Linked DNA regions of Homo sapiens: all the other regions are linked to region 3. Evidence: fine-mapped expression QTL. A gene starts in region 3. Each other region holds a variant in brackets. All regions are shown on one strand. Distances are between the middles of the regions.

Region 1 (5,915 bases), 40 kb before region 3:
GATTACAGGCATGAGCCACTGTGCCCAGCAGGATTACTGATTTTTAGACTGTACTCTGAGACACCAAGATATATACAATAAGTCTAGGAATTTTGAAAGAAAATTTTGCAGGAATTTCCCAGACAAATACAATAATGGTGACTGGGAGGATTAAGTTTCACTCTGAACTTCTTAGGAGACACAGGAAAAGTGGAAATATACGACAAAATTGAAAAGACTTGGCTCTCTGTGGATTCTACACCACAGATTCCACCAATCACGGACTGAAAACATTCAAAAAAATAAAAAATAATACAACAATTAAAAATCACACAAATTTTATGAGCCGCGCATGGTGGCTCATGTCTATAATCCCAGCACTTTGGGGGGCCAAGGTGGGCGGATCACCTGAGGTCCAGAGTTTGAGACCAGCCTGGCCAACATGGTGAAACCCCATCTCTACTAAAAATACAAAAATTAGCCAGACATGGTGACAGGCACCTGTAATCTCAGTTACTTGGGAGGCTGAGGCTCAAGAATCACTTGAACCTGGGAGGCAGAGGTTGCAGTGAGCCAAGATCGTACCACTGCACTCCAGCCTGGGTGACAGAGAGAGACTCCGTCTCAAAAAATAAAAAAAAAAAAACAAATCACACAAATTTTTAAAAACAATACAGTGTAACAACCATTGCATAACATTAGGTGTTAATAAGATGATTTAAAGTATACAGAGGCCAGGCATGGTGGCTTACACCTGGTAATCCGAGCATTTTGGGAGGCTGGGGTGGGCAGATCACTTGAGCCCTAAGACCAGCCTGAGCAATATGGTGAAACCCTGTTTTTACAAAAAATTTAAAAAATTAGTTGGACACAGTGGCCACGTTTACACCACTGCACTCCAGCCTGGGTGATGGAGTGAGACTTGGTCTCAAAATAAATAAATAAATAAATAAATAAAATTTTAAAAAAACACACTTCACATTATCATCACATCATTGACTAATTCAGCTTACTCACTTATGTTAAAGTCCAGCTTTTATCAAAGGTCAAAAACATAATTTTTTTTTCTAAATTTCCCCAGTAATAATCCTGGAATGCATCTAGGTCCCCCGCTCCTTTTTTTTCCTTTTTTTTCTTTTTTTTTTTTGAGATGGAGTCTCGCTCTGCACCCAAACTGGAGTGAGGCAGCGCGATCTCGGCTCACTGCAACCTCCACCTCCGTGGTTCAAGTGATTCTCCTGCCTCTGCCTCCCAAGTAGCTGGGACTACAGGCGCCCACCACCACGCCCACCTAATTTTTGTATTTTTAGTAAAGACAGGGTTTCACCATATTGGCCAGGCTCGTCTGGGACTCCTGACCTTGTGATCTGCCTGACTCGGCCTCCCAGAATGCTGGGATTACAGGTGTGAGCCACCGCACCCAGCCCTTTTTTTCTTTTCTTTTCTTTTTTTTTTAAGGAACAAAGACTACTTCTGAACATCTACGTTTTTAATCTGAGAAGTTTCACCAATGAGAAGCAGTCAGGAAAGTACATTTGGAAATTTGGAAATTACTCAAATGGCCACGTGGCGGAAGCCTCTAGGAAGGAACGCGGAGCAAACTCAGTGTGTACTTTGCAGTCTCAGTGCATTTGTCTTTACAGAGCCACGTGGCATAATGCTTTTGAGAACGAAAACTGTCGAGACACAAAACATGCCTAAAATATTTAGTCTTTCAAGGCGTCCATCAATCTAAGCAAATGCGTTACATGACTTCGATACATTGTAAATTATACACAAAATTTTTCAAAAATTTACAAATTTATAGTATTTGAGAAGTACTAGCTCATATCCCAAACAGAATTGTTCTTCTGAATCTATGTTGTACATTTCCTTAACTGACTCAACATGGCCCAGTTGAATTCAGATAGAAATCAACATTTGTGATCAGAAGAAATCAGGGAAATCATAATCACAATAAAAGTAGAGAAACATGAGCCCCTTTACCTTGTTACCCCCACCATTCTTCCAGGCATCATTCTCACCAAGCTTTCTCGGACAGCAAAAAATGCTGCATGGGGTCCCCCATAGCCCAGTGGCACTCCAAATCTCTGGGAGCTGCCCAGGGCGATGTCTACCCCAAATTCTCCAGGTGGCCTCAAGATGCACAAAGCTAAAAGGTCAGTAGCACAGCAGGCCAGGCTCTAGAAAGGAAGTGAGAGAAAAGGAACAAGGTTGCTACCTTTCCCTGAGAGTAGTGGGAGAGTAGGAAATTATCTTAACTACAGGAAGACGGGCAGAGTGTGTTCACATCCTGTGAACTCCATTGCTCATTCATTCATTCAGTAAATACATACTGAGTGCCCACCATGTGCCAGGAATCCGGGAACAGAAAAAAGTAGCAGCAAGGAGTCAGGAAGGAGAGTTTTACCATTCCATGTGATAATGGTAAAGAAATTAAGGCACATGAAAAGACAGAGAGAGAGATAGGTAGACAGATACAAGTTGGGATACGCCTCCACGGACCCCCCACAAGAAAGGTATACCTACCCCACTCTGATGAGCTCTCTCCACGAGTTCCGTAAAGTCTTCCACCTTCCCCTCCGTGTCTGGGTACTGGAACAACACTCCACTGACATCTTTTCCACTGAAGTCCATTTCACAGGGTAACTTCAGCTCAGTGAGGACTCCAGTATATCTGGAAAGACAGACAACAAAGAACAATCGTGCTTTCGGTTTATAAGGGAAAATTAATTAACGTTTCTTTTCCAGTAAGACAGCATTCATTTTCTGTGCCCTCCCACAGTGGCCTCCCACCCCTGCCCACATCCCGTCCCACAGGCACTTCAGTGGTAACTACATCACAGCAACTCAAGCGCATCCAACAGCTCTGCTTCTGTTCCTCTCTTCTATCCTCTGACTCCCCTTTGCCCTTTCCTGTCACAATCTACTCCTCAGAGAGGCCCAAGAGCATTGCTTCCTAGGGCTAATGAGCCAATATTTGTTAACAACAGAGCCATCACCTCTTTCACTGGCATCACTCTTAAG[T/C]GAATGGAAAACCATAAGTAAGACAAGGAGGAAGAACTTCCTTAGATTCCTGAACTAATAATGCCAATTATATGTCAGAAACCCCCCCTCTGAAGGGATGGTGGTATGGGTAGGGGGAAGAATGCTCAACTTTTACAAAGGGAAAGCAAATATCTACCAATAGTGGTTGTTGCGAGGATTGTTTTACCTGATTACAGCACGAAAGAAAAGTACTACACTTTAAACTACATAGCATCTCACCTAGGGACTCTGCACACCCTCTGTAAACTACGTTTGCAAGGAATACACACAAAATCTTAACAGTTGTATGTGAGTCCCATTTTTCTCTGTTTTTCAAACGTTCCAAAACCTGATCAAAACAATATTTTTATTCTTTCTACAAAAAGAAAACAAAACGGGCCGGGCGCAGTGGCTCAAGCCTGTAATCCCAGGACTTTGGGAGGCGGAGGTGGGCGGGTCACGAGGTCAGGAGATCAAGACCATCCTGGCTAACACGGTGAAACTCCGTCTCTACTAAAAATAGAAAAAAAATTAGCCAGGCGTGGTGGCGGGCACCTGTAGTCCCAGCAACTCGGGAGGCTGAGGCAGGACAATGGCGTGAACTTGGGAGGCGGAGCTTGCAGTGAGCCTAGGTTCCCTCAACTGCACTCCAGCCTGGACGACAGAGCGAGACTCCGTCTCAAAAAAAAAAAAAAAAAAAAGAAGAAGAAGAAAACAAAACACAACTTACTATAAAGCAATGGCAATTGTGTATTTCCCCACTCAATTCTGACACAGTTTACTTACCAGAGAGATGCCCAGAAGAAAGTGAGAGGTAAGGCAAAACTCAGCAACCCCAATTTAAACAGCAAAAAACCCTGTTTCAGATTCACCTCCAATCAGTTTGGAAGTGAGAAAGAGAAAGAAACAGCAGAGATGAACATGACATTATACTGAGTTTAAAACACGAATCAAATTAATTACTTGGCTCGAGTCTGGACAACAGCTATTGTCTGTGGGTGGCAACGGGGATCAACGAGAAATTTCCTCCTCTTGTTGTGTCTGTTGAAAAGAAAAAGCACATTCCAACGTGAACATTAAATAAATAGGACTATCTTCTAAGAACGCAAAGCAAACATAGTACCGAGGGTAAGTCTAAGCACAGTATAAAAAATACTGAGTAGGCCGGGTGCGGTGGCTCACGCCTGTAATCCCAGCACTTTGGGAGGCCGAGGCGGGCAGATTACCTGAGGTCAGGAGTTCGAGACCAGCCTGGCCAACGTGATAAAACCTCGTCTCTACTAAAAATACAAAATTAGCCGGTGCATGCCTGTAATCCCGGCTACTTGGGAGGCTGAGGCCAGAGAATCACTTGAACCAGGGAGGCCGAGGTTGCAGTGAGCCAAGATTGCACCGCTGCTGCACTCCATCCTGCGTAAGACGAGCAAAACTCTGTCTCAAAAAAAAAATTTAAAAAAAAATTGAGTCATCAGTAACTAATGGCATTTACTGATTAGCATTCCTCATAGATCCAATTCCCATTCTAACCCCATTTAGAAAGTCAGTCTTAAGATGGTTCAATTTCTATGTTTACTCAATAACAATTTTTAAAAAATGGTTCAAAATGTTTCAAATATACCATGAGGAAAAAGAAAATAAAGCAAAGGACAGTGATTAGATACAAGTGTAAACTGGACAGGTGCGGTGGCTCACACCTGTAATCCCAGCACTACGGGAGGCCGAGGTGCGTGGATCACCTGAGGTCAGGAGTTCAAGACCAGCCTGACCAACATAGCAAAACCCCAGCTCTACTAAAACTACAAAACGTAGCCAGGCATGGTGGTGCACGCCTGTAATCCCACTACTCGGGAGGATGAGGCAGGAGAATTGCTTGAACCCGGGAGGCAGAGGTTGCAGTGAGCCAAGATCGCCTCACTGCACTCCAGCCTAGGCCACAGAGCGAGACTCTGTCTTAAATAAATAAATACATACATACATAAATTAATAAATAAAATAGTTTATTTATTTATTTTTATTTTATTTTTGGTGGGGGGAGAACAGGGTCTCGGTCTATCGCTCAGGCTGGAGTGCAGTAGCGCCATCACAGCTCACTGCAACCTCGACCTCCAAGGTTCAAGTGCTCCTTCCACCTCAGCACCCCGCCCCTACATAGTTGGGACTACGGGCATGTGCCACCATGCCCAGCCAATTTTTGTATTAAAAAAATAAAATTGGCCGGTCATGGTGGCTCACGCCTGTAATCCTTATACTTTGGGAGGCTGAGGTGGGTGGATTGCTCGAGCTCAGGGGTTCAAGACCAGCCTGGGCAACATGGCAAAACCCTATCTCTACAAAAAATACAAAAATTAGCTGGGCATGGTGGCATGGGCCTATAGTCCCAGCTGCTTGGGGGGATGAGGCAAGAGGATTACTTGAACTGGGGAAGTCAAGGCTGCAGTGAGCTGAGATCGTGCACCCCAGCCTGGGTGACAAAGTCAAACCCTGCCTCAAAAAAACAATTGAGGGCCGGGCGGGGTGGTTCACGCCTGTAATCCCAGCACTTTGGGAGGCCGAGGCGGGCAGATCACGAGGTCAGGAGATCGAGACCCTCCTGGCTAACAGGGTGAAACCCCATCTCTACTAAAAATACAAAAAAAAAAAACCCTTAGCCGGGCGTGGTGGCGGGCACCTGTAGTCCCAGCTACGTGGGAGGCTGAGGCAGGAGAATGACGTGAACCCAGGAGGCGGAGCTTGCAGTGAGCCGAGATAGCGCCAGTGCACTCCAGCCTGAGTGACAGAGTGAGACTCTGTCTCAAAAAAAACAAAATAATTAAAACAAATAAATTAACTCGGCCGGGCTCAGTGGCTCACGCCTATAATCCCAGCAATTTGGGAGGCCGAGGCGGGCGGATCATGAGGTCAGGAGATCG
Region 2 (5,915 bases), 51 kb before region 3:
GCACTTTCAATGAAACACCATTAACAATCTTTCCAACTAGCCTGGGTGCATAATACTGGCTGGAGCCCTACAGCAGTGACCTCCAGCTGTCAGCAGTGACTAGCAAGGGATAGTCAGTGGAATAATTTTAACAACAAGCTACCAGTGTCACACTTGGGCCCCTTCTCCCTCACACTCAGGGGATAAGCTACTTTTGCTACCACCTCCAATAGTTATGATGAGGAACGCATGTTTTTATTTTACTTACTGCAGATGACTCACAACCAAAGATCCACAACAAATCGTCCAGATCTTTTTCATTGACTGTTTCATCAAGAGAAATACCAAGCTACAGAAACACAAACAAAATGGAAAACATCAACTCTAAACTCCACATCACTGGAGGAATCCCAAGAGAGGTCAAAGGGGAGACAGTGCTAAACAAAATCCCATCATTCCAAAATATCAGGGTACAATTATCTCCACGCTAAGGCTTAGAGGAAGGTGGCTAGACCAGTCCCAGGTTTCACAAGGCTTCGAGTTTTGCCAGCCACCTCTGAACTCTAACATTCCATGGCTGCAGGACACTCCTTTTGAAGCTAGACATGCTTATCTTTTTCTTCCCTTAACCCACTTATCAGATATTGAGGAGATTTTCTTCCCTTAACCTGTATATCAGTTATCAGAGCCTTTATCTTAAAGTCAGTCATACTGTGAAGAGAGGAGTATTATGAACAAAATATGTGCATTTCAGTCCCACATATGAAAACACTAAGTCTAAAAGAAAGCAAAGGGTGAATGATCCTTTACTGAAAAGACCACAGTGTTGCATAATGTAAATAACACTTGTTTATGAAAAAATAGGACTGTGCCTAAAGTTTTCCTTTTTATTTTTTAAAAACAAAGAGAAAACCTTTTAATGAGAAACAATGTGAAAATTTGAAAAACTGGTAAAAATACTGAAAATTTGACTTACTGTGCCATCCTCAAAAAGCCGAAAATTGATCTGCCGCTGAGCGGCCCTGCCCAAGACCTCCTTCACTGAGCAGCCACACTGAATCTTCAAGGTATCAAAGAACAGGTCATGCTGGAGTTGATGCCCTGCTCGCTTGAGACCTACACAAGATAGGAGATCCCCCAAACTCTCATATAGAAACCTGCTCCTCAGCCATTGACATGTCACAGAATAATAAAGAGATAAATTCTACTAGACTCTTGTTGGTCCTGGGGAGTGCTTTGGTGATTGCTTTTTAAAAAACTAAACATGTTTATTATCATGCTGTAGAAAATTATGAAATACATATAAAAGAGTAAGGAAAATCAACATACAATTGCATTACTGCGTGTATTTTGGTGTATTATTTCTCAAGAAATGGGGGAGCAGGTAGTATCAGATATATATATATATATATAAAATTATACCTTTTTTTTTTTGAGAGATACAGTCTCACTCTGTTGTCCAGGCTGGAATGCAGTGGCATGATCATAGCTGATTGCATCCTCAAACTCCTGGGCTCAAGCTCATGCAATCCCCTTGCCTCAGCCTCCCAAGTAACTGGGATCAAGGACTCATGCCATCACACCTGGCTAATAATTTTTTAAATTTTTTGAAGACAGTGATCTTGCCATGTTGCCCAGGCTGGCCTTGAACTCTGGGACTCAAGCAATTCTCCCACCTCAGCCTCCCAAAACGATGGGATTATAGGTGTGAACCACCACACCTGGTCTCATCTATGCTTTCCTATAGATCACTATTTTAAACCATATTTAATGGCTGTACAATAGTCAAACATATGGATGAACCATGATTTAATCACTTTTTTTTTTTTTTTTTGAGAGATGGAGTCTCACTCTGTTGCCCAGGATGGAGTACAGTGGAGCAATCTTGGCACACTGCAACCTCCGCCTCCTAAATTCAAGCAATTCTCCTGCCTCAGCCTCCCGAGTAGCTGGGACTACAGGAGTATGCCACCACTCCCAGCTGATTTTTGTATTTTTAGTAGAGACAGGGTTTCACCATGTTGGCCAGGCTGGTCTTGAACTCCTGACCTCAAGTGATCCACCCGCCTCAGCCTCCCAAAGTGCTAGGATTACAGGCATGAGCCACTGTGCCTGGCCTATTTCTATTTTTTTATAGAGATGTGGTCTCGCTCTTGCCCACGCTGGTCTTGAACTCCTGGCCTCAAGCAATCCTCCTGGCTCAGCCTCCAGAGTAGCTGACATTACATACACGAGTAACCATGTCTAGCTCACTACATAGCAGCATTCTTCTGATTGCCAATGTAATGGGATAAATACTAGTTTATTGCTTTATTTTGTATCTCTTTCATTAATAATGAGGCTAAAATTCTATGTCTACTGGCCATTTATTTGTATACTTATTTCTTTTAAAATTACATTTAATGTCTTTTGCCTATTTTTCTATTAGGGTGTTCATCCTTCTTATGTTTGGGGCCGGTAGGAAAGTAAGAGTTCTACATATTAAAAATATCACAGCTTGCCAGGAGTAAAAGAGAAAAAAATATTAACACTCAGTCTAAGCCAGGCATGGTGGCTCACGCCTGTAATCCCAGCACTTTGAGAGGCCAAAGTGGACGGATTTCTTGAGGTCAGGAATTCGAGACCAGCCTGGAAAACATGGCAAAGCCCTGTCTCTACCAAAAATACAAAAATTAGCCAGACATGGTGGCGTGTACCTTAATCCCAGTTACCTGAGAGGCTGAGGCAGGACAATCACATGAATCCGGGAAGTGGAGGTTACAGTGAGCTGAGATCGTGCCACTGCACTCCAGCCTGGGAGACAGAGCAAGACTCCATTAAGCAAGGAAGCAAGCAAGCAAGCAAGCAAGCAAACAAGAAAGCAAGAAAGCAAGCAAGCAAGAAAGCAAGCAAGCAAGAAAAAAAGAAAGAAAGCAAGAAAAAGGAAATAAAAGAAAGAAAGAAAGAAAGAAAGAAAGAAAAAGAAAGAGAAAGAAAGAAAGCAAAACAACAAAATAATCATGGATGTTGAAAGTATTTTTCCTCGTTTCTCACTTGACTTTTAATTTTGCATATAGTATTGGACATGCAATATTTTCAATTTTACTCAAATTTATCAATTTTA[T/C]TATGCCCAAATGTTTTAGACAGATTACCAACTCACCTTCTGACAAAATCAAAGTGGCATTATGTACCCTCCTAGCAATATGCTCCAGCCCATGGGAACCATGGTAGATTGCAAACATGGCAGCCATATTCGCCAAGAGGGCCTAAAAGATAAGAACATTTAAAGAATCACGTGATGGAGGACAATTAGTGGGAGGGTGTAATTACTTGACTTGGGATGTCAAAACTGAAGACAGCGACAAAACAAAATGATCAGATTTCCTACATTCTTTGATAGTTGGGGACAATTAATATATAACCTGCCTGACTACCTGAAAGGAACCATCATCCAAGACACCCTGGAGTTGTTACTATACTAAACCTTCACATTTGACCATTACGAAGGGCTTCTTCCATGCAACAAAATCATGTCACCCTTAAGGGCAAAGATCACACTACCATCAGACATTGAGAAGCAATGTTTAATGTTGGAAGACAGTGAAGCAATAAAGACCTCAGGGAGAAAAAGTGAGATCTGAGAATTTTACACTCAACCAGGCAATTCTTCAAGAATAAAAAGAAACAAGCAATTTTCAAACATTCAAGAACTTCAGGAATAAAATTCTCCTAAGAACTTAAATAAAACACTAGAGGCTGAACTTCTGCCAACCAAGAGTTGAATGGAGAATCTGTGGCAAAGGACTGGCAAAAACGGCAATGCGCACTTCAGCTGGGAGCGGGGTGGTGTGCAACTGTAGTCCCAGTGACTCCAGAAGCCGAGATGGATCACTTGAACCCAGGATTTCGAGGTTACAGTGACCTATGATTGCGCCACTGGACTCCAGCCCGGTTGACAATACAAAACCCTGTCTCTGCAAAATACAGTTGATGTTCAATACTGGGTCCATTTTGTTAGGTACATCTTTTTTTCTGCTAGACTACTAGAGGAAGTCTCTATGGAGCCAATGCAAAATAAGAAACAGTTTCCAAAGGTGAAGTCAGCAAACAAGGAAGTAAATGAGGAGAAAGAGACATCAGAAAACATGGAAGTAGGCATTCTTGTACTAAAAGTCCTAGACAAAGTGTAAACACTCTTATGGACTCCTTACAACAATCAGAAATAAACACAGAAACTCCACAGCACTTTACAGCTGTGGAAAAGGCGAGGCTGAGGTAAAGAATCTGTGACACACTGTGCCCAAATGCTCATGGCTGTGTTGCTGGAAACAGAAACCCAGGCCTGACATTCACAGAATGCCCTGGCAGCCTCCACCACAATATTGTAGAGGTTGGTTCATGTCCCTTTTTAATCTACAGATGATTCCTTCCATAATCAGGAGGCTATATCACACGGCTGAACAACAAATTGATGAGAAGTATAAAACCACTTTTTAAAAACTTCAAAGGGCACTAGAATATCAAAAGAAGAACCAAAAAAATTAAAATAGAGACCAAGAAAATGACAATTTCTTTCACAAATTGAACAAACTTAAAAATACAAAGGGCTTGAATCAGTGGCTCACGCCTGTAATCCCAAGACTTTGGGAGGCTAAGGTGGGAGGATTGCTTTAGCCCAGGAGTTAAAGACCAGCAAGAAGAACATAACAAGACCCCATCTCTAAAATAAATAAATAAAATAACAATAATACAATTAAGGTACTTAAAAGCCTCAAAAGCTAATGAATGCTCAAAATCATTAGTTATTAGGGAAATACAAAACAAAACCACAGTGAGATTATCACTTGACATCCAATAGGATGGCTATAACCAAAGGATAGGAAGTAACAAGCATTGGTGAAAATACGGAGAAATTAGAATATTCATATGCTGCTGGTAGGAAAGTAAAATAATGCAGCCACTTTGAAAAATGTCTGGAAGTTCCTCAAAATGTTAAATGTAGAGTTATATGACCCAGCAATTTCACTGCTAGGAATATAACCAAAAGAACTGAAAACATTACATCCATACAAAAATTTACACAGAAGTGTTCACAGCAGGCTTATTTGAAACACCCCAAATGTTTACCAATTGATGAATGGATAAACAAAATGTAGCATGTCCAAACAATGGGATATTACCCAGCCATAGAAAAGAATTAAGTACACATTCATGCTACAATATGGATGAACCTTGAAAACCTTATGCAAAGAAGCCAGGTACAAAAGGCCACACATTGTATGATCCCATTTATATGAAATATTCAGAACAGGCAAATCCAGGGAGACAGAAAGTAGAATAGTAGTTGCCAGGGGCTATAGGAAGGGGAGAGGGATGAGGAGTGACTACTTCATAGGAATAGAATTTCTTTTTGGGGTAATAAAAATATTCTGAAATTAAATACTGGTGATAGTTGCACAACCTTGTAAATAGAGTAAAAACCATTGAGCTGTATACTTGCAATTGGTGAAACTTACGGTGAGTTACATCTCAATAAAAAAAGCTAATAAAGTGTAAATTATTCTTTACTACACCTGACTTTAGAAAAGCCAACAAGGCTGGATGCAGTGGCTCACACCAGTGATCCCAACACTTTGGGAGGCTGAGGCAGGAGGATCGCTTGAGGCCTGGAGATCAATACTAGCCTGGGCAACAAAGTAAGACTCCCATCTCTATTTTAAAAAGATTTTTATATTAAAAATAAGAAAAGCCAATGAAAGAGCTGCTCATTGTGGTAGAAGCTAAGAAATAAGAGAATATATGGCCGGGCATGGTGGCTAACGCCTGTAATCCCAGCACTTTGGGAGGCTGAGGCAGGTGGATCATGAGGTCAGGAGATCGAGACCATCCTGGCTAACATGGTGAAACCCTGTATCTACTAAAAATACAATAAATTAGCCAGGCATGGTAGCAGACAC
Region 3 (5,915 bases):
TCAAAAATAAAAATAAAAAATAAAAAAATTAAGTTTATATTCAAGTTGCAAATTACTTTTCAGGAGCCCACTTCCACAGTGAAGAATCAGAATCCCTTAATGTTCAAATTATTCAGCTGGAACCAAGAACTAAACTAAAAAAGGATACACAACTTTGCCATGTTTCCCAGGCTCTAATGCTCTGAAAAGAACACTTTATTTTAGAGTATATATATTATAAAAATAGCTAACCTAAACATTCCCTGACTTTGAAAGTCTCAGGAAGGGATTCACTTGTTCAAATATTCACCTAAAATACCCTGCTTTAAAGATACACAACTCTTCACTCTTCACACATCAAATGAATTAGGATTCTGATTTTTTCTTTTCTTCCTTTCTCTTTTTTTTTTAGACAGGGTCTCACTCTGTTACTCAGGTGGAAGTGCAGTGGAGCCATCTTGGCTCGCTGCAACCTCCACTGCCCAGCTCAAGTGTTTCTGCCACATTAGCCTCCGGAGTAGCTGGGATTACAGGCGCACACCACCACACCCGGCTAATTTTTGTATTTTTTGTAGAGATGGGGTCTCGCAATATTGCCCAAACTGGTCTCAAACTGCTGGCCTCAAGCGATCCACCTGCCTAGACCTCCCAAAATGCTGAGATTATAGGCATTTGCCACCGTGCCCAGCCAGGATTCTGATTTTCTAAAATGGAAATAGATAAGGCTTCCCTCCGACCATCCCTAAATCTCAATTAGTTCAATTCAGCAAAACATGCAGGTTTTCAACGACCATCAGATTTGAAACCAACAAAGGCAGCAGCCCTCAGCATAGCCTGAGCAGCCAACCTGAAGCAGATAGGCTCCATACCTCAAATGTCCACCTTCAAACAAAATAAAGCTTGCCATCTGCACACTAGATCCTTTCTATCATAGCAACAAAATAAAACAGCTGCTCTCTCTTCATTTGACTCTAGAAGAAAAAGAGATAAGTATCTCCATGATTGAAAGTGAGATAACCAGATGAGATTTTTTTTAAGAGCTCAGCCTGTGCCCTTGACTTATGGATTGTCCCCCCACCCCATGGAAGTCAAATACCCACATAAAAATACCCCTGAAAAGCAATCTTGGACCATTAAAAATATTTTAAACCTAAAATAAAATTCTAAGAAAGTCTATGACTAAACTGACCTTTCTTAAACAAATGTAAATCTTATTTGTGTGTTTTTCTAGAAAAACCATTCGGGGTAGGGCACAGTGACTCGTGCCTGTAATCCCAGCATTTTGGGAGGCCGAGGCAGACGGATTGCCTGAGGTCAGGAGTTCGACACCAGCCTGGCCAACATGAAGAAACCCTGTCTCTAATAAAAATATAAAAATGAGCCTGGTGTGGTGGTGCGCCCCTGTAATCCCAGCTAGTCAAGAGGCTGAGGCAGGAGAATTGCTTGAACCAGGGAGGCGGAGGTTGCAGTGAGCCGAGATCAAGCCACAGCACTCCAGCCTGGGCGACAGAGATTCTGTCTCAAAAAAAAAAAAAAAAAAAAACGAAAAAAAAAAGAAAAGAAAAGAAAAACCATTCGGACTCGAAAAGTACTGCTGTCTTTCAGTTGGTAAATAATAAAATTTGGACGTGAGGTAAGAAAACAATTGGAAGATACTGCGATCTAAAGAAGCCTGGGGGAGGGAGGCGAGATGTCTGGTCACTTCCCCAGTTGCACGACCTTAGGCAATTCCTAGATCCTTTGAGTCTATCCGGGTCTGCGCAGGTAATGACACCTCTCAACCCAAAGTATGAGAGCACCCTGGCCGGTGAGAGGGTGCCTGGGAAGTGGGGAATCTGCTACAAAACGCAGGGGAAGCTCGCGGGGGCCCTAGGATAAAGACCAAGAACCGCACAACACCGACTCTCTCCTAACACAAAACTGTCTGCTCCGAGAACCAAATATCCCACCTTCCCGCGGCTCCGGAGGTACCCGCCACTGTTTTATTTTAATCCACACATTCCCAGTCCTGAGCAATCCTTACCCCAGAGCTCGATTTTCAGGGAACCACAAAAGACAAATAGGCCAGAATAATCTAAGTCCAAGGGAGCCCTCCCGGCCACTTACAAACAGGGTCTTCCATTTTCAAGGGTCTTTTCAAACGGATGTTGGCAGGGACCGTCTTCTCGATCAATTCATCAATGCTCTAAAATTAAAACGCAAGGCAGAGGAAAGTGCCTCTGAGTTAAAAGAGTCACCTCTGTGTTTTGCGACTACAAAGCCTTGTGGGAACCTCATTGAAATCGCCTAATTAGGGTTCTTTTTAAAAGAAAAGGAAAACTCTGAGCAAGCCAGAATGATTTGGAGGAAAGAAAATCGTGAAGTGGGGTGGAGATTCCGCCACTCGGGGTTGGATTTCAGTTGCAACCGGAGCTAACCGGTAAGCCCACTCTTAATCAGGGGGTCTTCCTCCTCTTGCAAAGTTTAGGTCCATCCACAGGGCCACTTGGGCTGGGGGTGGTTTAAAAATGTACACTTTTGAGGCACGAAGACTGGGTGCAGGAGAAAGTAAGCTGTTAAGAAGTAAGAAGGCACGAGGACCAAAGGCACGAATTTGCTTCCACGCCACGGCCCGGGACCCAGGGTGCGGGGACCACGCGGAGCGCAGCAGAGCTCAGGGTAGGAGCCGGGAGGCCGCGCAGGCAGAGCCCGGGCAGGGCGGAGGGGAGGCCGCGGAGGGCCGGGTGGAGGTCCTTACCGCCAGCCCCAAGGTCTGCAGCATCTCTCTCTGGTCTTTGTCCCCAGGGCCGATGTGCCTCCGAGCGAAGTCGTCGTGTCTGGGCAGAAGGCGCTCCAGGAGGCGCGAGGCCCCAGCCGCGGCGCTGTCCCCGCCGCCACTGCTGCTGTCCCGGCTCCGCGGCGCCCAGCACGGCCCCGATCCCCCAGCCAGGCGGCGGCCGCCCCCGACCCCGCGGCCCAGGCGCAGCCCCCACGCCCTGGCACAGGACTGCATGGCCGCGGCCACCGTCCCCTGCCCCGGCCCGCAAGGGTCAGCCGCGCTCTTGGCCCCTCTCCTGGCCTCGGTCCCCCGGGTGGCGGCTGCGCCCGGCCTGGAGCCCCTTTCGCTGGACAGTCGGCCGGACAGATGGATGGACGCTCGCGGGCAATGAATGGGCGCTGCGCTCAACCAAGACACTCGCGCAAAGTTGTGGCTCCACCCAAGGCACCTGCTCCGCACACTTTAAGCGGCGCCCTGGAGGCGGGAGGTGGGTTGGGGCCAGGAAGCCCTTGGCCAATGAAAGTAGACAGAGGGGGAGGGGGCGGAACAGTTCCCGCCCCCGCCCCCTCTTCCTACCCTCTTCCCAGCCCTTCCGTGGAGTCCCGCTTCCCCTGGACCGGAGGCTGCCATCTCCAGTCCTACCCACTCCGACGCTGGCTGGTGCCGGGGGCCGGGACGCTCCGTACGCCGCCCGCCAGGGTGTGGAGCCGCACTGGGGCAAGATCAGGTGGGACAGCCCAAAGACTCCGGGCCAAGTTCCTGGGGGACTCGGCGGAGATGGAAGATGATTCTCGAAGCTCTCCATTTCCTTAATTTTGAGGTATCTTTCTCTGTCACATTTCATCTCAGGGAAATTAATATGGGCAGATGGCGGTTCTTTTATCTTTGCGGGAGCGTGATAAAGTTACTCAACCTCTCAGAGCTTCAGTTTTCTCATCTCAACAGAGCTGGATGGGATTTTAAAAAGAGATTATATGTACATGGAAAGCACTTGAACAGTAGATTTGAACACCCTCTCTATATTTCTTTTCTTTTCTTTCTTCCTTCTTTCTCCTCCTCCTCCTCCTCCTCCTTCTTCTCACTCTCTCTCTTTCTCTCTCTTCCCCCCCACCACATGTAACGCTATGGCTCACGCCTGTAATCGCAACACTTTCGGAAACCGACGCGGTAGGATAGCTTGAGCCCAGGAGTTCGAGACCAGCTTGGGCAGCATTGTGAAACCCTGTCTCTACAAAAAATACAAAAATTAGTGGGGCGTGGTTGCGTGCTTCTGAAGTCCCAGCTACTCTGGAGGCTGAGGTGGGAGGATTGCTTGAGTCAGGGAGTTTCAGGCTGCAGTGAGATGTGATCGCACCACTGCACTCCAGCGTGGGCCACAGAACGAGACTCAGGAAAAAAAAAAAAAAAAGAACTGTGTGTGTGTGTGTATATGTTTTTTTAAATATATGTACTGTATATACATATACGTGTGTGTGTAAAACTACAAAGGATATTTTGTTGTTGTTTTTGAGACGGAATCTCGCTCTGTCGCCCTGGCTGGAGTGCAGTGGCGCGATCTTGGCTCACTGCAACCTCCACCTCCCGGGTTCAAGCGATTGTCCTGCCTCAGGCTCCTGAGTAGCTGGGACTACAGGCACGTGCCACCACGGCCGGCCATTTTTTATTTTTATTTTTAGTAGAGACGGGGTTTCACCGTTTTAGGCAGGATGGTCTCGATCTCCTGACCTCGTGATCCGTCATTACAGGCGTGAGCCACTGCGCCCAGCAAAAGTACAAAGGATATTAAGATAGACATTGTTCACTGTCGTCTTACTTTGAAAGTTAGCCATCTAGAACTGGATTTTTTGTAAATGTACCATCTCCAGCTGTCTCATGACAGTTTTAGCAAGAGAATGAACTTTTAAAATTCCAGTTGTTCTAATATGGGGAAGAGAGGACAGAAGTAATCAGAACATTACTTGTACTTAGACTAGGGGAAAATAAAACCTGTTCTCTTTCTTGCTTATCTGCTAAGTTTCCTCCTCCAATCACCCTTAACAGATTCTGGGCTCCGTACCCAGGAGGCACAGACTATCCAGAGAGGCAGGAAAGTAGAGATGGAAAAGAGGGCAGGAAAATACACCACAAAGAACAGTAGGTAAAATGTCTGTATGGCAGACGGAGGCGGGTGGTGAGCTAGGACGGCTGGGCTGAATGTCTCCGAAAAGTTTTTCGGCCATTTGGAATTGAAATTACAACCTTCATAAAAGTTGGGAGATCTCCTCAGTGCCAGATGGTGGGGGTTGTGGGGAAGGATTGGAGGGAGGAGGTAATCTGCATTTATTCCTATTCCTGTCTATGTTGTTTCTATGTATCAGAGGGACTGGAAGCCAGGGAACAATAATTCCCAGATCCCTTTGGCTCCGTGGTGATGGATGTTATTTGCCTTCTGCCAAAAAAAAACATGTATATATACACACATATATGTATATGAGAATTGGGGCCGGGTGCGGTGGCTCACTCCTGTAATCCCAGCACTTTGGGAGGCCGAGGCGGGCAGGTCACTTGAGGACAGGAGTTCAAGACCAGCTTGGCCAAGATGGCGAAACTCAATCTCTACTACAAATATGAAAAAAAATTTAGCCAAGTTTGGTGGGCGTGCTTGTAGTCCTAGCTACTCAGGAGGCTAAGGCATGAGAATCACTTGAACCTGGGAAACAGAGGTTGCAGTGAGCGGAGAGCGCACCACTGCACTCCAACCTGGGTGATAGAGCAAGACTCTGCCTAAAAAAAAAAAAAGAGAGAGAGAGAGAATTGGGAAATGGAACAAAGGTAAAAACTGTTTTCTTATTTTCTGACTGCAGCAGACAGATGCATGGACCACTGCAGACATGACATGCTTCCTTACCAGCACCCCATCTTGAGGTAGCTGGGAAGCTGTATCCACCAATGGGAATGTCCTGCAGTTCCCCAGCAGGAATTTCTGTGTACTAGACTAGAGCTTCAGTGGTTGACCTGAAGATAGCGTTGGTATTCCCTGGTTTTTGCTCTTCCAGTTCTTCCAGTGGTTTTGTATGCACCCATTCCTGACATTTAATTCTCCTCTGCTTGAAATGCATTGAGTGTTTTTTGTTTATTTGTCTGTGTGATGTTGTGAAATACATATCTGGTATTCATCCCATTTCCTGGCCTGCAACTC

Evidence for each region. PIP is the estimated chance that this variant, and not a neighbour inherited with it, causes the effect. A credible set is the group of variants that fine-mapping cannot tell apart.
Region 1: its variant is the best candidate, but not a certain one, in a credible set for the expression of GLDC in whole blood (INTERVAL, PIP 0.52).
Region 2: its variant is the best candidate, but not a certain one, in a credible set for the expression of GLDC in lung (GTEx, PIP 0.55).

Annotation. Positions count from the first base shown.
Region 1 is chr9:6,602,623-6,608,537 of GRCh38, forward strand. GLDC (glycine decarboxylase) reads right to left here. Exons shown (of 25, transcript NM_000170.3): 5 at 3,970-4,047; 6 at 2,509-2,656; 7 at 1,966-2,162. Among named protein-coding and RNA genes, the nearest start is that of GLDC, 40 kb to the right of the region's middle. The variant T/C (reference allele first, on the strand shown) is at 3,007.
Region 2 is chr9:6,591,896-6,597,810 of GRCh38, forward strand. GLDC (glycine decarboxylase) reads right to left here. Exons shown (of 25, transcript NM_000170.3): 9 at 3,119-3,224; 10 at 956-1,095; 11 at 248-328. Among named protein-coding and RNA genes, the nearest start is that of GLDC, 51 kb to the right of the region's middle. The variant T/C (reference allele first, on the strand shown) is at 3,083.
Region 3 is chr9:6,642,529-6,648,443 of GRCh38, forward strand. It overlaps GLDC (glycine decarboxylase), which reads right to left and starts at 3,201. Exons shown (of 25, transcript NM_000170.3): 1 at 2,717-3,201; 2 at 2,086-2,164. The coding sequence starts at 2,971. RefSeq lists enhancers at 2,411-2,968, 3,949-4,058, 4,109-4,208, 5,195-5,750, 5,751-5,915 and silencers at 2,649-2,718, 2,759-2,958, 3,029-3,278.